Homo sapiens: one gene and its partners. The protein of the gene in region 4 interacts with the protein of the main gene of each other region in a pairwise test. Each region holds a gene or a part of one and is shown on either strand. Other genes may lie near its edges.

Evidence for each region.
Region 1: the proteins of EXOC3L2 (region 4) and GPR148 interact in a two-hybrid assay, tested with the Homo sapiens proteins (one large-scale study listed by BioGRID and IntAct).
Region 2: the proteins of EXOC3L2 (region 4) and GAGE12G interact in a two-hybrid assay, tested with the Homo sapiens proteins (one large-scale study listed by BioGRID).
Region 3: the proteins of EXOC3L2 (region 4) and TNFSF18 interact in a two-hybrid assay, tested with the Homo sapiens proteins (one large-scale study listed by BioGRID and IntAct).

What each region holds. Positions count from the first base shown.
Region 1 is NC_000002.12:130,727,819-130,730,841, forward strand, and holds GPR148 (probable G-protein coupled receptor 148), read left to right. Parts: upstream 1-1,251; 5' UTR 1,252-1,333; coding exon 1,334-2,377; 3' UTR 2,378-2,518; downstream 2,519-3,023. UniProt on the Homo sapiens protein: Orphan receptor.
Region 2 is NC_000023.11:49,568,907-49,573,211, forward strand, and holds the start of GAGE12G (G antigen 12G), read left to right. Parts: upstream 1-1,493; 5' UTR 1,494-1,601; intron 1,602-2,640; 5' UTR 2,641-2,648; coding exon 2,649-2,732; intron 2,733-3,197; coding exon 3,198-3,318; intron 3,319-4,305.
Region 3 is NC_000001.11:173,044,436-173,048,005, reverse strand, and holds part of TNFSF18 (tumor necrosis factor ligand superfamily member 18), read left to right. Parts: intron 1-3,570. UniProt on the Homo sapiens protein: Cytokine that binds to TNFRSF18/AITR/GITR. Regulates T-cell responses. Can function as costimulator and lower the threshold for T-cell activation and T-cell proliferation. Important for interactions between activated T-lymphocytes and endothelial cells.
Region 4 is NC_000019.10:45,228,358-45,231,927, reverse strand, and holds part of EXOC3L2 (exocyst complex component 3-like protein 2), read left to right. Parts: intron 1-53; coding exon 54-165; intron 166-3,570.

The DNA of each region.
Region 1 (3,023 bases), on a different chromosome or scaffold from region 4:
CGGACGTGGTCAGGGGCGGTTCTGGGCGTGGTCCCTGGGCTGCGGTGGACGTGGTCTCGGGCTGTGACGAGCATGGTCCCTGGGCAGCAGTGGACGTGGTCTCACACCCAGAGTCTGAAATTTCTGCCTCTTCCTGGCCCTAAAAATATCCTGCCTGTTCCCACGCGGCTCCTGCCTTCTGGAGCAGTCTGCCAGGCCGGCGGTGGGTGTTGGGCAGGGGTCTCAGGCTGCCAGCAGCCAAGTGCAGCCCGTTCTGCAGTGATGACAGGGATCTGTGGGCAGAGGGGACCGAGCCTCGGAGGATGCTGTAGGTGGGAGAGCTAACATTGACTCAGCATTTACTTCAGGCTATGCACTGTGCTGAGTCCCTTACCTCTGGGCTTCCGCAACGTTTCCCTGAGGTCAGTGTGGTTGGCATTCGTGTTTCACAGATAAGGAAACTGGAACAAAGCTTTTCAAGGCCACGCAGCCAACACCTCGAGAGAGCGGGAGAGCTTGTTCACTTGAACTGGATCCCCAAACACCAACAGCCACCCTGGCCACTGGCTCTGACTGAGCTCACCCCACCCCCGACAAGCCAGGTGCCTGGGGAACCTGCCTTCCATTCCTCCCCACTAGCTCCTATGAGGTCTCTGCCTGCCAGGCCTCCTCCTCCCCAGAGGAAGGGACGTTTCTACCACACAGCGACCCCACAAGTCAGCTGAGATTTTGGGGGCACCGAATACTCACATGGAGCCCTGAGTGGAAGGGGTGTAGGAGTCACACTCACACGCATGCACAGGGTCACCCTGAGCTGGAGACCATACCCAAGGCTCTGTGAGGAAATGTGAGTGCGCCCAGGCCCCTCCAGCCTGGTCCAATTTGCTGAGCCTCTAGCTCGACAGAGGTCAGACCAGGTCTACAGCCCAGCGATCCTAGTTCCAGACAGCTGCTCCTTCCTTTCTAGGAGGGCAGCCCGGAATATAATCCAGTGTGGTGAGAATCCATTGCACACTCCCTGTGAGCCAAGCAGACAGGTTTGGGGGCCACTGAGATAGGGGACACTTCTGGAGGGGTCAGTGACTGCAAAATGGTGGCAGTGGGATGATCTGTTATGTCTACCCACGCACATGCAGCTGCACAGTTGCAGAGATGTGAATGCAGGAAGCCAGGTGTGAGTCTGAATTCACATTGGTTTTTTTATCTTTATTAAGCAGTCATTCCTAAGGCCTGCCCGAGCCTGGCATCTCTACAGAGGAGTGGTGCCATCAGGACCCCTGTGGGGCAGATCAACACTCAAGGCAGGTGCAGAATCAACAACCTGTGACAAAGCCAGCCATCCCTGCCAGGAAGCATGGGGGATGAGCTGGCACCTTGCCCTGTGGGCACTACAGCTTGGCCGGCCCTGATCCAGCTCATCAGCAAGACACCCTGCATGCCCCAAGCAGCCAGCAACACTTCCTTGGGCCTGGGGGACCTCAGGGTGCCCAGCTCCATGCTGTACTGGCTTTTCCTTCCCTCAAGCCTGCTGGCTGCAGCCACACTGGCTGTCAGCCCCCTGCTGCTGGTGACCATCCTGCGGAACCAACGGCTGCGACAGGAGCCCCACTACCTGCTCCCGGCTAACATCCTGCTCTCAGACCTGGCCTACATTCTCCTCCACATGCTCATCTCCTCCAGCAGCCTGGGTGGCTGGGAGCTGGGCCGCATGGCCTGTGGCATTCTCACTGATGCTGTCTTCGCCGCCTGCACCAGCACCATCCTGTCCTTCACCGCCATTGTGCTGCACACCTACCTGGCAGTCATCCATCCACTGCGCTACCTCTCCTTCATGTCCCATGGGGCTGCCTGGAAGGCAGTGGCCCTCATCTGGCTGGTGGCCTGCTGCTTCCCCACATTCCTTATTTGGCTCAGCAAGTGGCAGGATGCCCAGCTGGAGGAGCAAGGAGCTTCATACATCCTACCACCAAGCATGGGCACCCAGCCGGGATGTGGCCTCCTGGTCATTGTTACCTACACCTCCATTCTGTGCGTTCTGTTCCTCTGCACAGCTCTCATTGCCAACTGTTTCTGGAGGATCTATGCAGAGGCCAAGACTTCAGGCATCTGGGGGCAGGGCTATTCCCGGGCCAGGGGCACCCTGCTGATCCACTCAGTGCTGATCACATTGTACGTGAGCACAGGGGTGGTGTTCTCCCTGGACATGGTGCTGACCAGGTACCACCACATTGACTCTGGGACTCACACATGGCTCCTGGCAGCTAACAGTGAGGTACTCATGATGCTTCCCCGTGCCATGCTCACATACCTGTACCTGCTCCGCTACCGGCAGCTGTTGGGCATGGTCCGGGGCCACCTCCCATCCAGGAGGCACCAGGCCATCTTTACCATTTCCTAGAGTTCTTGAGTCCACAGTCTGGCAAGCTGAGGTTAAAAATCATATGTTGAATGCAGCAGTGTCCACTTATGACTAACTTCTTAGAACAGCACAATATAATAGTGGAATTGGGCCTTTCAGAAGACCTCAACTGATGATTTTCACCATTTTGACAGTTTTTAAGTAGAGAAAGCTCTCTTATGACACTGAAATCCTACTTGGAAACGGAAGCAAGTAAAGGCAATCAAGCAGGGCTCTGGTCTAAGTCAAGCCTTGATCTGCGTCCCTCCAATGGCTTGCTGCACACCCTCCCTGGCCACTGTGGATGCATCCTTGCTGACCAACACACAGAAGCCAAAATGTTGCTGACAGTGAGAACCACAGAGGTAAGCAAGCAGAGCTGCTGAGTCCTGGGACCATGAGCTCTATCTGAGCAGCCGCTCAGGATGTGGGAGGGAGGAAAGGAAGCCAACGATCCACAGCAGTGGAGAGTGTCATGGAGATACCACTATAAAGCTGGAGTGTGCAAGGGTTACACTCTCACAATAAAGGTAAATGATAACCTAACCTTACAGAAGGGGTCAGCAAGGGAGTTTGCCTGCCTTGACTTTCGTGCTGTGTAGAAGAAGAAAATTCCTCGAGAATTCTTAAGTAGAAGCCACTCTTC
Region 2 (4,305 bases), on a different chromosome or scaffold from region 4:
TGGGCCACCGTGGCGGGCCCGTCATTGCCATTGTAAAGAGTTTTATTTCCTTTTCTGATTTTATGGCATTGCGCAGACCCACCCGTTACAATGGTGACAGTGGACATCCTTGTCTTATCCCTGATGAGAAACCGAAAAATTTCAACATTTCACCATCCTATTCACTCTCCTTTTTTTGTAGACGGACTTTATCAGAGTGAGTCATTGCATTCTGTTCCAAATTTGCTGAGAGTATTCATTTGAATATATGTTGATTTTCATCAAACAGTGCATCTATTTCGATTACCACAGCGTTTTTTCCCATTCATGTGTTAATATAGTGAATTCGATTGATAAATTTGTACGTTTTTAGGTTCGATTATTAAAACTTGAGACAGCGTCTCACTCTGTCACCGAGGCTGGAGTGCGGTGGTGTTATCAGAGCTCGCTGCAGCCTTGACCTGCTGGGCTCAAGCGCGCCTCCCACCTCAGCCTCCTGAGGAGCTGTGAGTATAGGTACATGCCACCATGCCCAGCTAATTTTTCGATGGTTTTTTGTTTGTTTTTTGTAGTGATGAGATTTTCTGATGTTGCTTAGGCTGGTCTCGAAGTCCTGAGCTCAGGTGATCTGGCCAGCTCAGCCTCCCAAAATACTAGGATTACAGGCGTGAGCCTTGGCCTGGTCTGGTTTTTCTTATATAGGGGTCTTATCTATATAAAGACTAAAGTTAATCTGTGCCTTTGTGCGGGTGGGCTAAGAGCATGATGACTTTTATCATTCTATTGATTTAAAGAAAACTGTCCTTGACTTACCAGTGTGTAAGTCCATGAAAGCATAATTCTGTTGAAAGCATATATTGTTAATGGGTGTTGGGAACCGTGCACTTTCCGCTGCTGTGGGAGCATGTCCTTGGAGGTACCTTTCATCTGTTTTCTCAACTCCAAACATCTTAGGACCATGGGTTGTGACTGGTAGGACTATGTATCTTGCTGCTTTCAAGACGGAGTATATTTTCACGTGGTGTCACTCTGGCTGTCCTGTTTCCCTAATACTGTCACTTCACCCTCTGCGATTCTGATGCTACAAATGATAGATATCGTTTTAGCATTTTCTTACGGGTCCTAGCGATTCTATTCATTTTTCTTTCAGTCTCTTTCTCTGACTTGTTCACATTGAACAATTTCCTTTTGGGATAGGTTGCTATTTCTGTTTTCGCAGGTGGTTTACCTGTCTTCCCAGCCAGTCACAGTGGTCCTTGTCCCCATGGTGGGTCCGGGGCAAGAGAGGGCCCTGGGTTGGGGGTGGGGTTCAGTTGAAGATGGGGTGAGTTTTGAGGGGAGCACTACTTGAGTCCCAGAGGCATAGGAAACAGCAGAGGGAGGTGGGATTCCCTTATCCTCAATGAGGATGGGCATGGAGGGTTTGGGGCGTGGCGCTGGGAACGGCAGCCCTCCCCAGCCCACAGCCGCGCATGCTCCCTGGGCTCCCGCCTCAGTGCGCATGTTCACTGGGCGTCTTCTGCCCGGCCCCTTCGCCCACGTGAAGAACGCCAGGGAGCTGTGAGGCAGTGCTGTGTGGTTCCTGCCGTCCGGACTCTTTTTCCTCTACTGAGATTCATCTGGTAGGTGTGCAGGCCAGTCATCCCGGGGGCTGAAGTGTGAGTGAGGGTGGAGAGGGCCTCGGGTGGGTCAGGCGGGTCCCGCTTCCTGGTCTGTGGCCTCCGAGGGAGAAGGGCCACGAGGTCGTCCTCCTTCCCTTCACAGGCTGCGAGGCCACCGGCGGCTTCGTGGTCGTGAAGGGGCCTGGACGGGGAGGAAGGTGGGCCGTGGAGGGGAGGCGGTCAGGGGCTCAGGTGAAGACGGGGTGAGTGCTGTTGGGGGGATGGAAGTCCCGAGGTGCCGGGATCCCCGACGACACAGGGCAGATTCCCTGAATGGGGCCCCCGGCGGGGGCGAGGCGGGCGGTGAAGAAGGGGCCTGGCACCTGGGAAGGCTGCGGCCTGGCGAGCGCCCCCTCAGCGGTGTGGAGTGCGGAGCGCCCGAGTGAGAAGCACTGCAAGGTCTCACCTCCGCCATGGAAGGTCCGAAAACAGTGGGAAGGAGTGGGCGAGGCAGTGCGGTCCAACCAAACTTGTTGTGAGTGGGGGTGAATGGCTCTAGGAAGTGGGAGTGTGCCCAAAGCAGCAATCACGAGAATTGTGATTCACTAGGGTTTTCGTGGGGAGTGCACTTGTGAAACTAAACCTCATCAGAAATGACCTCTGTCTGCGGGGCGCAGTGGCGCTCGCCTACGTATTCCCAGTTACTGGGGACACTGAGGTGGGAGGATCCCTTGAGCGGGAGGTCGAGGCTGCAGTGAGCTGTGATCACGCCGCTGCACTCCAGCCTGAGCAACACAGCGAGACCGCGTGTCCAAAAGAAATTTAGAAAAAAATGTCCTCTGCCTTTTGCCACACGCCTTAAGATGATTGCTCTGCCAGCCTGGCCAGCAGAAGTGGCTTTGTAGGCACTCAGACAGCGTACACACGTATGCTTAACTCTGGGACTTATTTTGAGAGTATTTTCAAAAGTAAAACGGCAAGTTAACATTTATCCATGGAAGTGATCGAATATAGCAGCCCTCTGGAGCGCACGTTCCCAATCACGGTTGTCTGTTTTCAGTGTGAAATATGAGTTGGCGAGGAAGATCGACCTATTATTGGCCTAGACCAAGGCGCTATGTACAGCCTCCTGAAATGATTGGGCCTATGCGGGTGAGTGCTTAAACGTTAATTCGATGTTTTCTATTAGTAGAAATTAATTTTTGTGATAGCGTCGTTGCATTAGTGTGGAAATGCTGATAAAGGTCTTTCCTGCTCATAAAAAATGAGGATGGCATCTCATGAAGGAAACATTGATTCTGGAGGATTTTTTTTTTCCTCTCGTGTTCTTCAGCTTTTGCCCATGACTTCTTTCTCCGGCTTTGTTTGTTAATGACAGATTGTACACATGTATTCCAACACAGAGTATAATAGCCCCCAAAGTCCTCGTGCGTCACTTTTCTCACAGTAACCTCCCTGTGGGTGGAGTAACCTTATTGGGCATAGAGCATAGAGTTGGAGAAATGTCTTTAGGCTTAGTTAGGACCAGAAATAGCTATGTATTCTGTGTATATATGTAAAATTTTGTATCAATAACGAAACTTATTTTCTATTTGCACACCCACACGTATTCCCCAGCCCGAGCAGTTCAGTGATGAAGTGGAACCAGCAACACCTGAAGAAGGGGAACCAGCAACTCAACGTCAGGATCCTGCAGCTGCTCAGGAGGGAGAGGATGAGGGAGCATCTGCAGGTCAAGGTGAGGGAAAGGGAAGAAGAACGTCTGCTGGTGTGTGCGTGTGTGTGTGTTCGTGTGTGTGTGTGCACGTGTGTGTGTGTTAGGCATTGTCACATAGGAGGAAGAGGAGGAAAGAAAACAATGGAAAGAATGCCTGAAATTGACTGGAAAAGCGAGGAGGCTATGTAGTTTGCAGCTTAGCTTAGGCAAATCCCTCACTATGATAAAAGTTCTCGACTTTATGAATGAGAGAATGGAGGTGCCAGGATTGTGTGTTATCCAAGAACCCTTGACTGGTGAATACAACATTTGTACTGTGTTCTAAGGTTTGTGTCTTCCTATCATGTATGTTGCTGGAAAGAAGGAAGTGATTTTGCTGAAAATGCTTAAAACTCAAAAGGCTTTACTGTAAGGTAGCTTAGTACTGACCCAAGAATAGACCCAGTTCAGAGGAGCAGGAGCAGCTCCAAAAACCGAGTCGCTGAATGTTGGCCCCCGTTTCCTTTGATTGATATTTTTATATGGTACGTTTGATAAAAGCTGGATAAATGAGGATACTGCCATACAGGTAGCTGGTTTAGTGATTTTTCTCAGCGGCCTTTAGGAGGTGATTAAATCCTTTTATGGTTAGAAAAGCAAAAACGGAATTATCCTGAGATTAACGTGAGATGGAAATAATTTCTCCGAGATAAAATGTTTTGAAAGGAAGCATTTATGTAACGGAGGTCATGGATTATTCCAGGGATGCACTGTTAAAAGTTCCTAGAATCTGACTGACAACAATGCCCATTAATTGCTGTCCGCCCACTCCCTTATTCTCAGTGCGGGGGACAGTATATTTTCTGTGATTCACAAACAATGTTATATTTGGTGCTTTGTTCTTCACGGGGTTCATTTATGGAATATTACCTTTAGGACCTTCGGACCTAAATATAACTTTATTTGAACAAAGTGAAGTTTCTCTTTACCCCAATAGGTAATGGGTGTCGTGACTGTAAGATTTTCCAT
Region 3 (3,570 bases), on a different chromosome or scaffold from region 4:
CCCAGTAGAGGGGAGTGATTAATATTTGCCCCATTACTATTAATGAGATAATAATGGGCAAAAATTTAACAAGACCATTTAACAATATGGATAGTCTTTGCCTACCTATATCACTCTCTCAATCAAACACTATATCTCAGAGCCAAATTTATGATTTTGCAATTAGATGGATTTTTAGTGGTGGCAATAATTAGAGAGTATCACAGTGATGGTCTCTGTAGCGCTAAATAGACATAAAGCAGCCTGCAGTATATTATACGGAATTTCTGACTCTGGAAATTAGTTTGGACTTAGGTTGTCTATAGCTTAGGTTTCTCTGAGCACATCTCATACATGCTAGTAGATGGTGCAGATACTATCTGTGGCACGTATTTTGGCACTCATTCATATTTAGATTGTTACCAAATTGCTTTGGGTGTGTAATCATGTCTTTCTAGAAAGATTATAAACTTCTTGAGAAGCAAGGACCAAAAATTACATTTGTTTCTCATGCTTACAATGCTGTACAATGTTGGAAATATGGATGCTTAAATTGTAGTTCAATTCTTCATTACAATCACCATCATCACCCAAACAGCTAATATTTATTGAACAGGTCCAGGCAGGATATCTAGGCAAAGCCCTTATTAAAAACGACCTCATTTAACCCCAACAACTTCAACAAGCTAGGTGCTATTATTTCTCCCATTTTATAGATGAGGAAATTGGGGTTAAGGGAGTCTTTGTCACGTCCCTATCATGGGTTGAACTAAATTGAATTTCAACATCTCCTCCAGGAAACACCAAAATGAGGATGAAATAATTGCAAGAGGCCAGGCACAGTGGCTCACGCCTATAATCCCAGCACTTTGGGAGGCTGAGGCGGGTAGATTGCTTGAGGTCAAGAGTTTGAGACCAGCCTGGGCAACATGGCAAAACCCTGTCTCTACAAAAAAATACAAAAAAAATAGCTGGGCTTGGTGGCATGCACCTGTAGTCCCAGCTACTCAGGGGGCTGACGTGGGAGAATTGGTTGAGTCCAGGAGGATGAGGCTGTAGTGAACTGAGATAACACCACTGCACTCCAGCCTGGGCAACGGAATGAGACCCTGTCTCAAAAAACAACAACAACAACAACAACAACAAAAAAAAACAAGTGTAGGGAATCAAAAAATTTATTTCCTAGAATAGTGGCTTTCAGACTTTTTAATTGCACCTCCCTTTCAATAACATATTATCAGTATAATTCCCAACATTTGTATGCTAATTATTATACTATATACAAGTACTAATAATATGTACACTAAAGAGATACACAAAATATATATTTATAAGGGTGAGCCAAATAATATATTCAATGTAACTCTCACAATGCAAAACCATTTTGCTTTCACCAAAATGTTATATTTTCTATAATCATTAATATGTCATAAACATTACTAAAATAAGTAAAATATTTTAATAACGTGGTGAATGCATTTATTTTATTTTTTAATCTGAGCTTAACACTATGTGATACAGCAATTTGAAGTTTGATATGTTAATTTACCTTGTTTCATGATTTTGACCATCATGACTGAAAAATTACCCGACAAACAAATATAGATTAAAATGGAAGAACACATCTTTGGATATTCTTATCATGTCATACCACTTAATTTTCAATCCATCATTCAATGATGGATGCCTCTCTTTCCTTCCTTCCACAACTAAATTCCAAGATCTATAGCTTTAACACCTCCCTCGCATAAACTCACTCACTTGCTTCTCTCTATCTTCATTATACTCTAATGACAAAAGCTCGACTATGGAAAACCTCCAATGCTGATTAAATCCAACTGCTCTGTCTCTTTCACTGTTGAATATATCTGAAGAAAAACATAAAATTTTTTGAAAGGTCTTACTTTAAATTCACAGCCACTGCCTTCAAGTGGATTTCATTGTTGCTCTGGAAACAGCCCATGTTTCCCCAGTCCATTCACTCTCCTCTACTGGATGATTTCATACCTTTAGCTTCTCTTCAAACATCTAATAACTCTTCCCCATTCTCACTCTCCACTGATAACGTTGCCTCCATATTTTAAGAGAAAATAGAAGTACGGAGGAAAGAAGTTCCAATATCAACAACTCATTGGCATTTGTGTCCAGGTATACTGTTATTCTGTCTTGTCACTATGGATAAATTGTCCATGCATCTATCCAAGCCATCTATGAACTAAATCTTATCCTCTCTTGCCTACTCAGGGACATTGCTGCAACAGTTCTCTCCTCGCTCTTACATATTATGCCTCATCCATTTTACAGAAACATTTCCATCAAATGGAAATAGAAAAACGTGTTGTCATTTCTCTCACATTAAAACGTAACAACAACAACAACAACAACAACAACAAAAAACCTCTTTGATCTCTCATCCTCATCCAAACTCCACTCATTTTTTTCTGCTCTCCCTACAGCAAAATTCCTCCAACTTCTCTTGTCCCATTTACCCTTAAATTTATTTTAACTAAGCTTCTGCCCTCTTCACATATCACAGAAACTAATTTTGTCAAGAACTCCAGTGACTACCATGTTGCTCAATCTATCAGTCAATTCACTGTACTCTTCTTACTTGATCTATCAACAGCATTTGACACCAGCTGATCACTCGTCCTTCATGAAATACTTTCTTTTCTTGGCTTCCAAACATCAGACTCTCCTAGTTTCCTTTCAGACTCAGCTTTTCCTTTCTATTGTCCCTTGCTTGTTCTTTCTCATTCTCCGACCTCTAAACATCACAACGCCCCAGTGTTCCTCTCCATCTACACCCACTAACATGATGGCCTCATACAATCTCACAGCTTAAAACATCAACTATGAGCTTAAGACTCTTAAATGTATATCACCAGAGCTCCTTAAATTTCAGCCTGCTTGACACACTTACTTGGATTTATAATAAGCATCACAAACTAATATGTCCACAACCAAACTCATCATTGTTCCCCTCCCCATTTATTCCTCTTACATCTTATCCATTTTAGTGAATAACAACTTTATCTTTCCAATTATGCAGGCCTAAAATACTGGAGTCATCTTTGTTTCTTCTCATTCCCTACCCCATATCCATGTCAGGAACTTCTGTTGGCTCTATTTTCCAACCAAGTATCACCATCTACAGAGCTAGCACCTTGGTCAGAGACACCATGCTCTCTTGCCTAGATGAATGACTGTAATGATCTCTTAGCTAGTCTCACTACATTTGCCCTTGCCTCTGTTTAATTTGTTCCTAGCATAGCAGCCAGAGAAATCCTACAAAAGGAAAGTGTGCAACACGTTTAAGTTCAAAAAGTCTTTTAAGCACTTTGCCATTAGGAAACCAATAACCTTTGGGTGATACAAAAAATGTTTGTGGTTATGCCTGAATTTACTACAACGTATTTTTGAGCATTTAGCATTAACTACTTGTGTTTGTAAAATTAACCACACACTGATGGCATCTTGTAGCATGTGAACTGCCGTACATTGCAGTAGTCTGAAACTTGGAACTGTTTTTCAGGGTATCTCAGATACTGTATATGACATGTAGTTATCTGAATATTATACATGGGTGGT
Region 4 (3,570 bases):
ACTGCCCAGCCCCACTTTTCACAGACCTCCTTTTCTCTCACCCCCATCCCCAGAGAGGTCCTAGGGCTGGTGGACATGGCCGCCCTGGAGAATGGGGAGCTGGGGCCCCTTCTCTCCCCTGGCACCCTGCGGGGTTTGGAGGATGAATGCGTCACAGATGTTAAGGTACCTGGAACTTTGCATTTTGGAAGCAGGAGGTGCTGTGGAGGGAGGGGGTCACAGTGGGCTTGGGAAGCCTGTCCCCTCCACCTTTCACTCTTTCCAACTCCCTTTTCCCTTTACGAACTTCTGAGTTCTATCCATGTGCCATAGACACAAAGGCCGCTGTACAGAGACACTTGGTAAAGGTTCAGTATATCTGGACACTTCAAACCTTAGAGTACAAGAAAGTTAGTCACAGAACTACAGCTCACAGGCCCAAAGACTCACAGAAGTATAGCATCAAAGATTTTTTTTTTTTTTTTTTTTTTGAGGCAGGGTCTCGCTCTGTTGCCAGGCTGGAGCATTGACCTCCTGGACTCAAGCGATCCTCCTGCCTCAGCCTCTCCAGTAGCTGGCACCATAGGCACGTGCCATCAGGCCTGGCTGACAAAGATCTTCACATATAAGCAGGGCTGGTAATAAACATGGTTAATTACTGAACCTGCACAGACACCGCTGAGCAGAATGGCCCAGCCATGCACGCCGTCCCCGGCTACAGTGATGTTTGCTGTCTCAATTCCAGTCCTACTTCCAGCCACAGAAATCAGTCAATGCTACTTAAGAGCCTAGAACCATAGAAAAGAGATCTGGATCCTTAAACTCATCAAATTGAGGATTATACTTTTTTATTTTTTTAATTACAGATGTCTCCCTCTTTTGCCCAGGCTGGAGTGCAGTGGCATGATTACAGCTCACTACAGCCTCGAACTCCTGGGTTCAAGGGATCTTCCCACCTCAGCCTCCTGAGTAGCTGGGATTACAGGCACACACCACCATGCCTGGATAATTTAAAAAAAAAAAATTTGCAGAGACAGGGTCTTGCCATTTTGCCCAGGCTAGTCTCAAAATCCTGGCCTCAAGTGATCCTCCAGCCTCAGCCTTCCAAAGCTCTAGGAGTATAAGCATGAGTCACCCCAGCCGAGACAACACATTTGATCAGAGAATCAGAGATGTGAGAACCTTTGCAGCCCAGCCTTTGGAGTTCTTGAAACACAGAATCTGAGAATCTTAAACTAACTGTTTGGCAGAACCTGAGAGCAGAGTCTTGGGACCAAAAGACAATAAAACATAGACCCTTGGCCGGGCGCGGTGGCTCACACCTGTAATCCCAGCACTTTGGGAGGCTGAGGTGGGAGGATTTCTTGAGGCCAGGAGTTCAAGACCAGCCTGGACAACATAGCAAGACTGTCTCTGTTTTAAAACTTTTGTGGCCGGGCACAGTGGCTCACGCCTGTAATCCCAGCACTTTGGGAGGCCGAGGCGGGTGGATCACGAGGTCAGGAGATTGAGACCATCCTGGCTAACACAGTGAAACCCCGTCTCTAGTAAAAATACAAAAAATTAGCTGGGCATGGTGGCGGGTGCCTATAGTCCCAGCTACTCTGGAGGCTGAGGCAGGAGAATGGCGTGAACCCGGGAGACGGAGCTTGCAGTGAGCCGAGATCGCACCACTGCACTCCAGCCTGGGCGACAGAGCGAGACTCCATCTCAAAAACAAAACAAAACAAAACAAAAATGTTTTGTAAAACATTTTAAAAGTTAGCTGGGTGTGGTGGCACGTGCCTGTAGTCTCAGCTACTCAAGAATCTGAGGCGGGAGGATTGAGTCCAGGAGTGTGAGGCTGCAGTGAGCCATGATGGTACCACTGCACACCAGCCTGGGGGACAGAGCAAGACGTGGCCTCTAAAGAAAAACAATATTTAATATAAATAATACTTCATACATATCATAATATGTAATAATAGGATTTATATTTAATATAAATATTAAGTATACATTATTTGTGTATACATATTAACATATAAATGTGTATATTATAAATAATATACAATAATATATTATATTATAGCTTTATTTATAATGTACACATATATATATTTTGAGACGGAGTTTCACTCTTGTTGCCTAGGCTGGAGTGCAGTGGCACAAACTCGGCTCACCGCAACCTCCTCCTCCCGGGTTCAAGTGATTGTCCTGCCTCAGCCTCCCAAGTAGCTGGGATTACAGGCATGCGCCACCATGCCCGGCTAATTTTGTATTTTTAGTAGAAAAGGGGTTTCTACATGTTGTTCAGGCTGGTCTTGAACTCCCAACCTCAGGTGATCTGCCCATCTTGGCCTCCCAAAGTGCTGGGATTACAGGCATAAGCCACCGCACCTGGTCACATGTATCTATATTATTTATAATATATTATTTATAATATGTATTATTGATTTATATTTAATATTTATATGTTAATATAGATTACATATTTCATGTGCTATAGTATATAATACATACTAATTATTAATATATAAATAACGTATTATGAATTATTAATATACACATTATATAGCTTATACTAATATTTAATATATAAATATATTACATATATAACATATATTTAATACATAAATATATGTATATATTTAATACATAAATATATGTATATATTTAATACATAAATATATGTATATATTTAATACATAAATATATGTATATATTTAATACATAAATATATGTATATATTTAATACATAAATATATGTATATATTTAATTATACACACACGTGCACACACACACAATTAAGCCCTTGCTTATTAGATGGAGGAAGCTTAAAACCATGGACTAATTTTATTTTATCTATTTATTTATTATTTTTTAATTTATTTTTTTGAGATGGAGTCTCACTCTGTTGCCCAGGCTGGAGTGCAGTGGCACAATCTCGGCTCACTGCAAGCTCCGTCTCCCGGGTTCACGCCATTCTCCTGCCTCAGCCTCCTGAGTAGCTGGGACTACAGGCGCCCACCACCACGCCCGGCTAATTTTTTGTATTTTTAGTGGAGACGGGGTTTCACCGTGTTAGCCAGGATGGTCTCCATCTCCTGACCTCGTGATCCACCCGCCTCGACCTCCCAAAGTGCTGGGATTACAGGCGTGAGCCACCGCGCCCAGCCTATTTTATTTTTATTTTTGAGTTGGAGTCTCACCCTGTTGCCCAGGCGGGAGTGCAATGGCATGATCTCCACTCACTGCAACCTCTGTCTCCCAGGTTGAAGCAATTCTCCTGCCTCTGCCTCCTGAGTAGCTGGGATTACAGACACGCACCACCACGCCCAGCTAATTTTTGTATTTTTAGTAGAGACGGGGTTTCTCCATGTTGGCCAGGCTGGTCTTGAACTGTTGACCTTAGGTGATCCGCCAACCTCAGCCTCCCAAAGAGATTACATGTGTGAGCCATCGCGCTTGGCCAAACCAGACTTTTAATATGAAGTTCCAAACCACAGAGTTAGGAGTGGGAAGGGCTGCAGAAGTTTTCTGGCTCAGCCTCCCTCCCCAGCATCACCTTGACAAGCTCATAGGTAGAATCCAGAACTGCTTGGGGTTAA